Linked DNA regions of Homo sapiens: region 1 is linked to region 2. Evidence: fine-mapped expression QTL. A gene starts in region 2. The other region holds a variant in brackets. All regions are shown on one strand. Distances are between the middles of the regions.

The links. PIP is the estimated chance that this variant, and not a neighbour inherited with it, causes the effect. A credible set is the group of variants that fine-mapping cannot tell apart.
Region 1: its variant is the best candidate, but not a certain one, in a credible set for the expression of ERBIN in whole blood (INTERVAL, PIP 0.85).

The regions. Positions count from the first base shown.
Region 1 is chr5:65,967,708-65,973,091 of GRCh38, reverse strand. All of the region lies in intron 1 of ERBIN (erbb2 interacting protein), which reads right to left. Among named protein-coding and RNA genes, the nearest start is that of ERBIN, 44 kb to the right of the region's middle. The variant C/T (reference allele first, on the strand shown) is at 3,085.
Region 2 is chr5:65,923,392-65,928,775 of GRCh38, reverse strand. It overlaps ERBIN (erbb2 interacting protein), which reads right to left and starts at 2,201. Exons shown (of 26, transcript NM_001253697.2): 1 at 1,970-2,201. RefSeq lists enhancers at 2,048-2,267, 2,228-2,852, 3,758-3,977, 3,477-4,101 and a silencer at 2,348-3,437.

The DNA of each region.
Region 1 (5,384 bases), 44 kb before region 2:
ATCCTTTTTTATGGCTGCATAGTATTCCATGGTGTATATGTGACAAGGCCCTAATTTCTTAAGGTGAATTTCTTTATAAGTTTATTCTTTCCCCTAAACTGAACAGAAGGAACAGAAATAAAAGAACCAAAAGGAAACCGAAAAAAACGTAGGAATTGGCAAAACAATGAGAGGTCAGGTTGAAGTTCTCATTTTCCTTGGGGTTAATTTAGGCTGGGAATGATTAGGAACACCAAAAACCTTCCAAAGAAAGCTAGATCACTCTCAACACCTTATTACAGCAGGATTTTCAAAGGTTAATTATTACCGCTTATAAGTAAAGCTTTAAAATACCACCACTTGATGACAATCTTATCTTTAAAAAGTTTCACTTTTTGTAGCATTCAGATCTATTTTAGGAATAAAATCCATAATCCTGTAAAACTATCCCAAACATCCCTTAAGGCTGAAGATTTATTTTGTAAGTGAAATAGTATAACAGATATGGAGAGGAAAAGAAGAAAAACAAAAATTTAAGCTTCTACTTAACCAAACATTATTTTGAAAGTACTTAATTTTAAGTAACAAATATTCTTTAAATTTTTCTGTAGAAACTATGGGGTGCTTAGTGCCAAGTTCATTCACATACATGGCACTCCCCATCTCTCTAAAGTACTTTATGCATGTTGAAATATAATCAAAGGTCACAGGACAAATAAGAAGTCTTAGATGCAAAGTTTAATAGCATTTGCGTAACATCAATGGTTCTCAATGAGTGTAAGGACACCGCAGCAGGTCCACAAATGTCAAAGCTCCACATCATAGTAAGTCCACTGTCAATATACCTATTGAGAAAACACTTATATACATATGGATTTTTGTTTTTGCTGCAATAAAACTCCATGGCCCAAGGGTGAGAGACAATCTAATATTTCAATGCTAAGAGTCTGGCAATACTAAGATGGACAATAAATATCCCCCAAAAATGACATAGCAGACCCCCTTGGAATAGCCCCCCAATTCACAATGACTCCTCCTTTCTCTGAGAAAAGGTTACCACAAATCCATAAAGCACCTTTGTACAAATTTTAAAACTGCAGCCCTTATAGGCATACAGCTTGGCAAGCAGCATGTGGAATAAGCAACCTGCACAACATAGAAGCCCTGTTGTGAGAGCTATTCTCCCTTTTGAAAGGGGTGGCCCTCTAACATCTATTTTGGTACCAGGTAACACTGCCCTCCTAGATGGAGCAGATTGGAAAGGGAACGGGCACCTGACTCAAGCCAGTCAATCATTTGCTCTCTCCCCAGGATATGTAAGTGGGACTGAAAGATAGCAAGTCTGTCCCTGCATTTAGCGGAACTGTAACATCTGAAGCCATAATCTATGGAGCTGCCGCCTTCTACCATATGGACATAGAAAGAGAATGCTCATCTGAAGAGAGAAAAATAAAATATAAAATATAAAAGAGTGATGGTTTTGGACTCCTGATGGCCTTCCAGTTATTTGTTCTAATTCTTTTCTGAGACTAACTGCATTCTAGCTGTTGAGTGTCCATAAGAAACTATTACATCCTTATTACCTTATTTTTACTGGTTTTGGTTACTTTCATCCAAGGAGTCTCATTAATATACTTTACTTATACCAAAGCTTTTGAGCTGATATCTGAAAGTTCAAATAAGTGAAAATTCATATATAAATATGATCCTCCATTATTTTGCAAATCACTCTGTCTCTATCTTTCTACCCACGCTCAAGGGCTCAATACCTATTCTTCTAAAAAGGGAACTTTGTGTTCCAAATTTAGGAAATCTAAACCTGAAAACCTGATGCAATACAGGCTTTGAACACTGAAAAAAAAAAAAACCAGCATGCACAAACAAGATAAATCTGCAATTGTCACAGTCACTTCTAGACACCTGGTTGTCTTTTTCATTACACCTCAACCAATTTAGATTTATCATCAAAACGACTAGACTTCCTGGGCACAAAAAGGTCAAACCTAAACACTTTGGTAGCAATTCTGGACTAAAATAACAAAAGGAATCAGTCAAATTAACGTTGAATGACCATATTTGGCTTTCTGATGCTAAATACAACAAATACAAATATGACAAATATGTCAGAAAGAAAACAAACATTTGCTGAGTTACTACTAGGTGCTGAACACTAAAGATACAAAGATAAATGGTCCCTGCCTCAAGGAGTTTCTAATTTTAGATAAAACATGATAGCCACCCAGCCCAGTGGCTCACACCTGTAATCCCAGCTGAGGCAGGAGTTGAGGCCAGGAGTTTAAGACCAGCCTGGGCAACACAACAACACCCTGTCTCTAAAAATAAAAATAAAAATAAAATTAGCCAGGCATGCTGGTGTACGTCTGTAGCCCCAGCTACACTTGGGAGGCTGAGGCAGGAAGATTGCTTGAGCCCAGGAGTTCAAGGCCACGATGAGCTATGATTCACGACTGCACTCAACTCTGAGCAAAAGAGCAAGAGCACGTCTTAAAAAGAATATAAAAAGTTACAAATGTGGGGAAAAAGGAGACCAAATAGTCTGGTGGTAAGGGAAAACAGTCAAATAGGACAGAATAGAATATATAAACCAAAGTGTAGAATCTCTCTACATACAGAAAAATAGTAGTTAGTGTTGCCAGCAGACAAACTTCGGTAGGATAGGCTTTGAAATATATAGGAATGACGTTAGGGTAGTCAGCAGGGGGCTAGAACTTAAAAGCTTTAAATACCATACTAAGTAATATAGACTTTGACTGGTAAGCAGCAGTTTTTAAGACTTAAAAGCAAAGGAGGGACATAGTCTAATTTAAGTTTTAGACAGATCACTCAGTTAGCAATGCAGAGCTAAAAACAATCCTGATACTATTTAGCCAGTAGTATGACTTATAAAATATGAGGGGAATGTCCCTATACCATCTCTTTCACTGCTTGGTTTAATAAACAAAAGTCATTAATAATTTAACAGTGTAGTCTTCATACTTCACTAGATTATGTAATTTGACGTAGACAATTAAAATGTCATGCTTTCTTCTGTTGCTGATTCAATTACTTTGGGGCAAGGTAACAAAAGTGAAACCACTCAATATA[C/T]GAAAACCAGGTCTTTAAAAAGAGAAACATCTGAAGTTTATCATGCTTAATATTAAAAAACAATTAATAGTAATTCCCTAAACAAAAATGGCAAAACAACTAAATCTGATTATTGAAAAATAACAATATATGACCACCTTGGAACAAACAGAACTGAAAAGCTAAGATATTTGAACAATTTAGGAAGCAGTATCTGAAACTACTGTTCCTAGAAAGCTATGTTTATATGTGGTTTTTATTTGTTTTTGCTCCCTGGGGGAGCAGGGGGTGAGTTTTAGAGTGACACAAAATCAAGCTGTGTCAATGCAACTAGTTAAAACCTGCATATTTCAACACTTGACAATATAATTTTAATAGAAGGAATTCCCAGATAACAAAAAGCCTACCAATAAATCACTGAAAATTCAAAAACAATATAGCTGAACACAAAAGTAGCTGGCTTTGGAAATAATACTGCTTTACATTTGAGTCTAGATTCCACCATTTATCATTCTGTAATCCTGAACACACTACCTCTTCAATCTCAGATTCTTTATGTTAAAAAACAAAGGGCATAAAAGCTACATTTTCGTTAGCTGTTCTAAGAAACTACGAATGTCCAACACAAAGCCATATTGAGTGGCTTTACTTGTACTGCCTTTCCCAAAAGTAACTGAATCAGCAACAGAAAACATAATTATACATAAGCTGAATAAATAATAGTTTTTCCTTTCTATTGAAGATACATAAGAGTAACTTGTTTCTTTGAAAATATTTTATATATACTATTCATACTCACAGGTACTTTTTGTGTTTTCCTGTTTACCTGTTTTATTGGGTGTGGGGTGACCATGGCTTGCTGGCATGCTTGTTCTCACATTAGCATTTTTTTCTTTTTGCTTTATCCTCCCGAAATTGACACATTAGCATTTTTTTAATTGACATATATCACAGTAGCATAAGGTCAATACTAACTCTCATTCACTTATATGCCCTTAAACGCGGTATTGCATTATTTTTACTAAAAGAAGGGAAGAGACCTCTCAATCACGATATTTCCCTTCTTATTTGAAACAAAGATTTGGGAAAACAAAGTAGTTGCTTCGTTCATCTACTTATTTATGAATTGAGCTACATAATTTCTCCAAATTTAAAAATAAAAGCAATAGGCCAGGCGCAGTGGCTCACGCCTGTAATCCCAGCACTTTGGGAGGCCGAGGCAGGTGGATCACCTGAGGTCTGGAGTTTTGAGACCAGCCTGACCAACACAGGGAACCCTGTCTCTACTAAAAATAGAAAAATTAGCAGGGCATAGTGGCAGGCGCTTGTAGTCCCAGCTACTCGGGAGACTGAGATAGGAGAATTGCTTGAACCCAGGAGGTGGAGGTTGCAGTGAGCCAAGATCGGGCCACTGCACTCCAGCCTGGGCAACGGAGCAAGACATCGTCTCAAATAAATTAATTAATTAAATCAAAATTAAATAAAAGTAATAATGCAAGTAATTCTGCCTACCTTCCTTCTTTACTCAATAAATGTAGGTCTTGTAACTAGTTTGATAGTGATGTCAATTTTCTTTTCCACAGAGCCTCTCAAAGTCTGGTAATTGCACCTTGCTGAATGCTACTCTAGTACTTAAATATATTTTCCACACAAGAAAGGCACTGAACACAAGCCAAATATATCTTATTTGATATTCAGTTGAAGAAACAGTGACTTTTTCTTGAACCTATAGAAAATCCTCACCGTGCCGGACAGAGAATGTATAATGGTCTCCCCATCATGATACCTTCTACTTACACTGACTTTAGAACTTAATCCCTAACCAACAAGATGCCACTATTTTGTAGAATGAGGTTGTGGTAGGTATAACATTTTCCACAAATTCTTTTACACTTCTCCCCTCAAGAGGTGAAATCCTCTTCCCCGTCATTGGAATAAGAGCTGGTCTTGGTGACACGCTTCTTAAAAACAAAATATAACAGAAGTGATGCTACATGACGTCCAAGGCTAGGATAAAAAGGCTAATACAGTTGCCACTTAGGCTTTTGCCCTTTTCCTTTCATCCACTTGCCCTCTGAAACCAGCCACTTGCTGTAAGGAAACTCAAGTCTTACCGAGAAGTCACACGCAGGTGCTCTGGCTCATGGCCCTGGCAACCATCTAACTGCAACCACGTAAGAATTTGAGCAAGAACCAACTAGCTAAGCCAAGATGAGCCCCAGACCCATGATAGGTAATACTGATGACTCTTCTTGGTTTATAATATCACTAAGTTTCAGATGGTTTATTTCACAATAAATAATTGGTATAAGGTCTGATTA
Region 2 (5,384 bases):
TTTAAGTTAATTCGGTGATAAACTAACAGAATTCCAAGAAAACTACGAAGTAAATTATGCCTTGTTGAGGAGAAAAAAAAGAAACACAAAGGTGAACACCTCACTTCATAAAACGTGTTGTCTGCATCGAAACATACTACTCTTCTCCTGAGAAAAAAAATCAAGAACTAAATCTAAAAATAGAGGCTTAAATAGTCATTTTCAAGTGCTACAATACTTTTTTTATACAAAATTTACTAATAAATAACCATCTTCATAAAGCGATAATTCTCTGTAAGGGACTTGCTCTATTAAGGTTTTGTTGCTTTTGAAGCCAAGTATAAGCCATATAAGGAAACTGAAGTTCAATGCCATTTATTTTGTTCACCTCTTTCAGATGCCCAAGAATAACCTCTTTTGCAGCCTAATGATACGTTCCAAAATCATAAAGTAGATGAGTTATGCACTTTAAATTCTTTGATAAAGCTAGTTTGACTTAACAAGAATTATTCCATGGTTCACAAATCTTACCAACAATGAAAAAAAAAAAGAATCTCCTGAGACCATGCCCCGGGGAGGAAAAAAAAAATCAAAACTACAGTAATAAATAAAGGACTGCCTTTGGAGATGTACTTAATGAAGCTGAAGTAGCAAAGAACAAATTGTGAAATAATTTGATCCTGATCTTTAAAACTTATTTTTTCTCTTTGAACTAAAGAAAATCAACTCTCTCCTCGGGTTTCCGGTCATTACGTGAGACAGCATAGGCAATCTAAACATCAATATATATTTAGGATATACCTACCAACAGGATTACCAAATTTATTCAATATATATTCAAAAGTACAGTATTGTATTTCACCTCCCTGTACCGCAAAAATACCGGGAAAAAAAGTAAACAGAAAAAGACTAAAACACCACTGAAAAAAACTTTGGGTTTACTGCTATCAAAACTAGTCCCCATTGGTTCAGAAGTGTTCATAGCTCTGACTGGTGGAATGTCTGCCATGCTTCATGAATCCTGCCCCCACAGATGTAGGCAGAACCTATCACTATTTATGCAGAACCGACCAAAAACATTTGGGACAACACAAAAATGTAAAGACCATACTACTCGAAAAGCACAGCTTTTTATCACAATCACTGTGATTCCCTTGAAAATCGTTTTAAGCGTTTTACTTCCCCTCCCATCGTCTGTTCTGAACTGTACAGAAGTCCTATTAAACGTCTTACAGGTTGTTAATGTTGTTTAATTATCTCTCCCTATTCTTAGTCCTTACTCCTTTTTTCTTCGTAATGGATCAGTTACAAGAAAAGCCTAGTCGATCCTTGCTTTCAATTAATTAAACAAGTTATACGGCGCTAAACGTCTGAAAAACACACACTACACACAACTAAAGAAATATATTACTCACCCTGAAAAACAACTAAGAATGGCAAGATTTTTTGGTTTCTAAAATCTAACTAAATATACTGATCAGGGTTGGAAATAAAAAAATAAAAATAAATACCTCTATATACAATTAACGCAAGCGCCAATATAATCGGTATGAGTATAAACAAACGCGGCAGCCATCTCAATAACAGCAAATCACTCACTGCAGCGACCAAACTTTCTTCCCAAACAGAAGGTGCCTGGCTGAGCAACTTAATATACACTCTATACGTTCCAGAAAGCCAAAACTTCTGGCCCCTGTGCTGAACAAAGGCAATCGTTCTTCGGATTACTAAAAACTTTTCGTCCCACCGCATTCTTACAACCTCTTCCAAAAAATTCAAAGTCCAGATGGTGGGGGGGGCAGGGGGGAGAAGGGACGCGGTGGGGTGCAGTTCGATTATTTAGCCCCTCAATTATTAACCGCTTCGATATGAGAAAAGGAGGGTTTAGGGCAACTTGGAGAAGAGTGAAAAACACTAAAGAATCATCTCTTTTCCGAGTCACAAAGTCCCATGAACTTTGTGACTCAGAGACACTTTTCGTGAAAATTACCTTTCGGCGGGACACCGTCTCAGGGCAGCTTTTTCAAGGCTTCGCTTGACATGATTTCCTTCCCTTCATCAGTCACTTTGGATCCAGCTGAATATCTCTCTCGGGTGAGAGCGGATGTGGACTGGCCTCCCACAGAAGAAGAGTAGGTGGCTTTGGTGGGGGTTGGGGTGCGGGCTGGCTTCCTGGTCTCGAGTTTTGCAGGAGTTTCCCAGCCCCAACGAGGATCTCCGCCGAAAAAAAAAAAAACAAAACTTTTCACTCGTGACACCGCCCGGAATTGCAGTGCGAAACTCACTTCCTGCCTTGGCGAGAAGCAGGATCCAGCTCCGTCCAGGGGAACCCGGAAAACCAGCTCCGCGCGCACCGGAGAGGGGGAGGGGAGGGGACGGCCGCCGGGAGCCTCGGGTTCCGGGCAACCGGCGCGCCCGGCACACCGGACGGCAGCAGCACCCGGCCGGCGGGGGCGAGGACGCTGCCCGGGCGCTCGGCGAGCCTCGGCCGCGCTAGGCCGCCACCGCTTCCTCTCCGTTGCCCCCAGAGCCGGGCGGCAGGGTTATTGTCTCGATAGCGCTTGCCGCGCCCTTCGTCCGCGACGCCGCTGCCGCCGCCACCCGGAGCCGGAGCCGAGGAGTCGGGCAGGCTCAATAGCGGCCCCCTCCCCGGGCCGTCCGTCGGGCCGTCCGTCCTTCCGTCCGTCCCTCCCCGCTTTCCCTACTCGCCCTCGAACCCTCTTCTCCTCCCTCTCCCGTTTTCCCGCCACCGTCCCTCCGCTGCCCTGCTTGTTCTCCTTCGCCAGCGGCGGTGGCTCCCCGAGACGCGCAGGGGGCGGGAGCAGGAGGCAGCTCCGTCTCCTCACGAGCTTGCGGGGCCGCGGCAGGGGCCGAGACTGCGTCCCGCGCCGCCGCGCCACATTCACTCGAGCGAGAGACGGCGAGGGGAGGGAGGACGGAGGGAGCGGAGAGAAAGGAGGAGGAATGGGGCAGGGGCGGAGGGGAGTTACTGCCTCACAGGCCGCGGCGGCAACAGCGCCACCGCCCCGGCCGCGACGGGTGAAGAGGCTGCGCGCCGCGACTCTGCGGCGGGGGCGGGGGCGGGGCGGCCTCCCGCCGGCTTCGCCCCAACCGCCAACAGCCGGGCAGGAGGCCTGCGCGGGCCAGTCAGCGCGCGGGGGCGGTGCGGGCCGACGTCGGCGGCTGGGGGCAGCGGGCCGGGGGCCGGGGGAGGGGCAGCCGGCGGCCGTGGGTTCGCGTGCAAGGCGCGCCGTGAGGCCCACTCTGGCCCAGGCCCCTCGAGGCCTGCCCGCTGCTCCCTGCCCGCTCCCCGACCCCGCACTCCCGGACTCCCGAGCCCCCCAGGGTGGGGAACGCTGGCAACGCCGACCCTGCTGTCTGCTCGCGGCCCAGCGCCCAGCCAGAGAGATAGAGAGCCCACAGGCCTCCGCCGCGCCGGCCGATGGAGTTTCTTTGTACGACAGTAATCGGTGCACAGGGGTTGTTGGAGTCCAGCCCTGATTTGAAGGCAGCAGGTATCTCTTGCAGCTGCAGCACTCCAACTTCCTCTAATGGCACGGTCAGGTCGCAGGAAACCACAGCGGCAGCGCGGTGCAGCTTCCCACGCCCGCCCTTCGAGCTTGTTCCCCAGCGGCGCAGCTCAGCCTCCTCCAAGTCTCAGCCTCATACCGGCGGGGAGACAAAGCTGGCGCTGGGAGTGGGAAAAGGGCCCGCGAAATGGCCTCAAGATCGTGCCTTTGTTAGAAGAAACATGGGTACGCTCCGATGCGACGCAGGCTTCCAACCCCAGCGGTTCGGTGGTGGTGCAGTCGTTGAATTGCGCTGGCCCTAATAATTCAGCCTGGCAGGGTTCGCGTTTATTGCGGAGAGAGACTCTTAAGCATTCTGTCAACACATATGGCAAATAGAAAGCCTCAACCATAACATTGCACAGTTTTTGCAGTTCTTGCTTTAAATATGTTCACAGAAAAGACGGCCTTGTTTTACCCAGAGAAGGAGCGTAATGCGGAGCGAACCATTCGTCACCCCCATTCTCTGCTGCACTTAACTGTGTACAGTGATGATAATTAGCCTCTGGGTCCCTGAAGTCCCTGGTTCAGTTCTTCCGTCTGTATTCTAGAGATAATTATTTATTACCAAGTTTGAATAAAGAGCTATATCCCCTACAGACCTTTTTTTTTTTTTTTTTTTTGGCTTGCCAATGGAAAGAGTTCATAAATTCCACCAAGTAATCATTTACCAAAATGAGTTGTACATTAGTTGCAAACACTTGAAATAACGCCGAAGATATTCAAGTCATTTTATTCAGGTTGGGAGCATTTTTAACTACTTGAAGAACTGCTGGAATTAATACAGATGTTAGGTTATTTAGCATACAGCAGAAGTTGAAGATTTACAGGTAGTACTGAAGTGTTCAGATATATTCAGTGCTGAATTAGAGGTAAGAGTATTCGCTGGAAGCTAGGAAATGGCAGCAGCTATGCCAGTGTTACCAAGCTGGATATCTATGTGAAAATGAATCTTAACCATTGCATAAAAAGCTAAAGTTAGCATATTGTACAAGCTATTTGTAATCATCGCTGGGAAGATTTCTTGCTCCGTTTTCAAAAACCGTTTTGCGCCTGATCAGAACTCAGTGGCATAGCTCTGAACTGAAAGGGTCACTCTCCTAAAGCATCCCAGGATGGAATATCTCCCATACTAGTGGAAAACCAGCTAGATTCTGGGATTCCAGTGTTGCTTCTAATCTCAGGTTGATTCGAGACCCCTTTAAATGTGATGCCATAGATTCGAGTAAACCTAACCCTCCTCTCTAAACTTAACTGATCAAGCCACTGCTTTAGGCTAAGACTTGCCCTGGTCCTAGCCTTTTTAAAATTTATACTCACACTCAGGACCAATCTGACAGACTACCATCTAGGCTAGAAAAGTACCTATAATCAAAAACCCTCCAACTCACCTGAAATTCTGCCATTAGAGTTTTATCCCTTTAAGTAGTTTTTTTCTCTAGCACAAAACCATAATCCTGGGAAAAGTAATATTTTAATCCTTATTAGTCATTTATACCTAATTCATCAGATTGTTTCCCCAAAGCAGCTTTTGTTGGAAGGGAAAAATAGAGATAACTAGAGATAACATATGCTGAGGCTGAGTTGATAGGAGACGGAAATATAGTCTCATTCCTTGGAGCGTTATATAGAGAGTAGAGGATTACAGGCAATAAAAGGACCCTTTTGATGGCTAAATAAGTCCTGCTTACTCATACTGTAAGAATGAGCCACCTAATACACTGGCCTTAAGAGGATGGAATCTGGCCGGTTGCAGTGGCTCGCACCTGTAATCCCAGCACTTTGGAGGCTGAGGCGGGAGGATTGCTTGAGCCTAGGGGTTCAAGATCAGCCTGG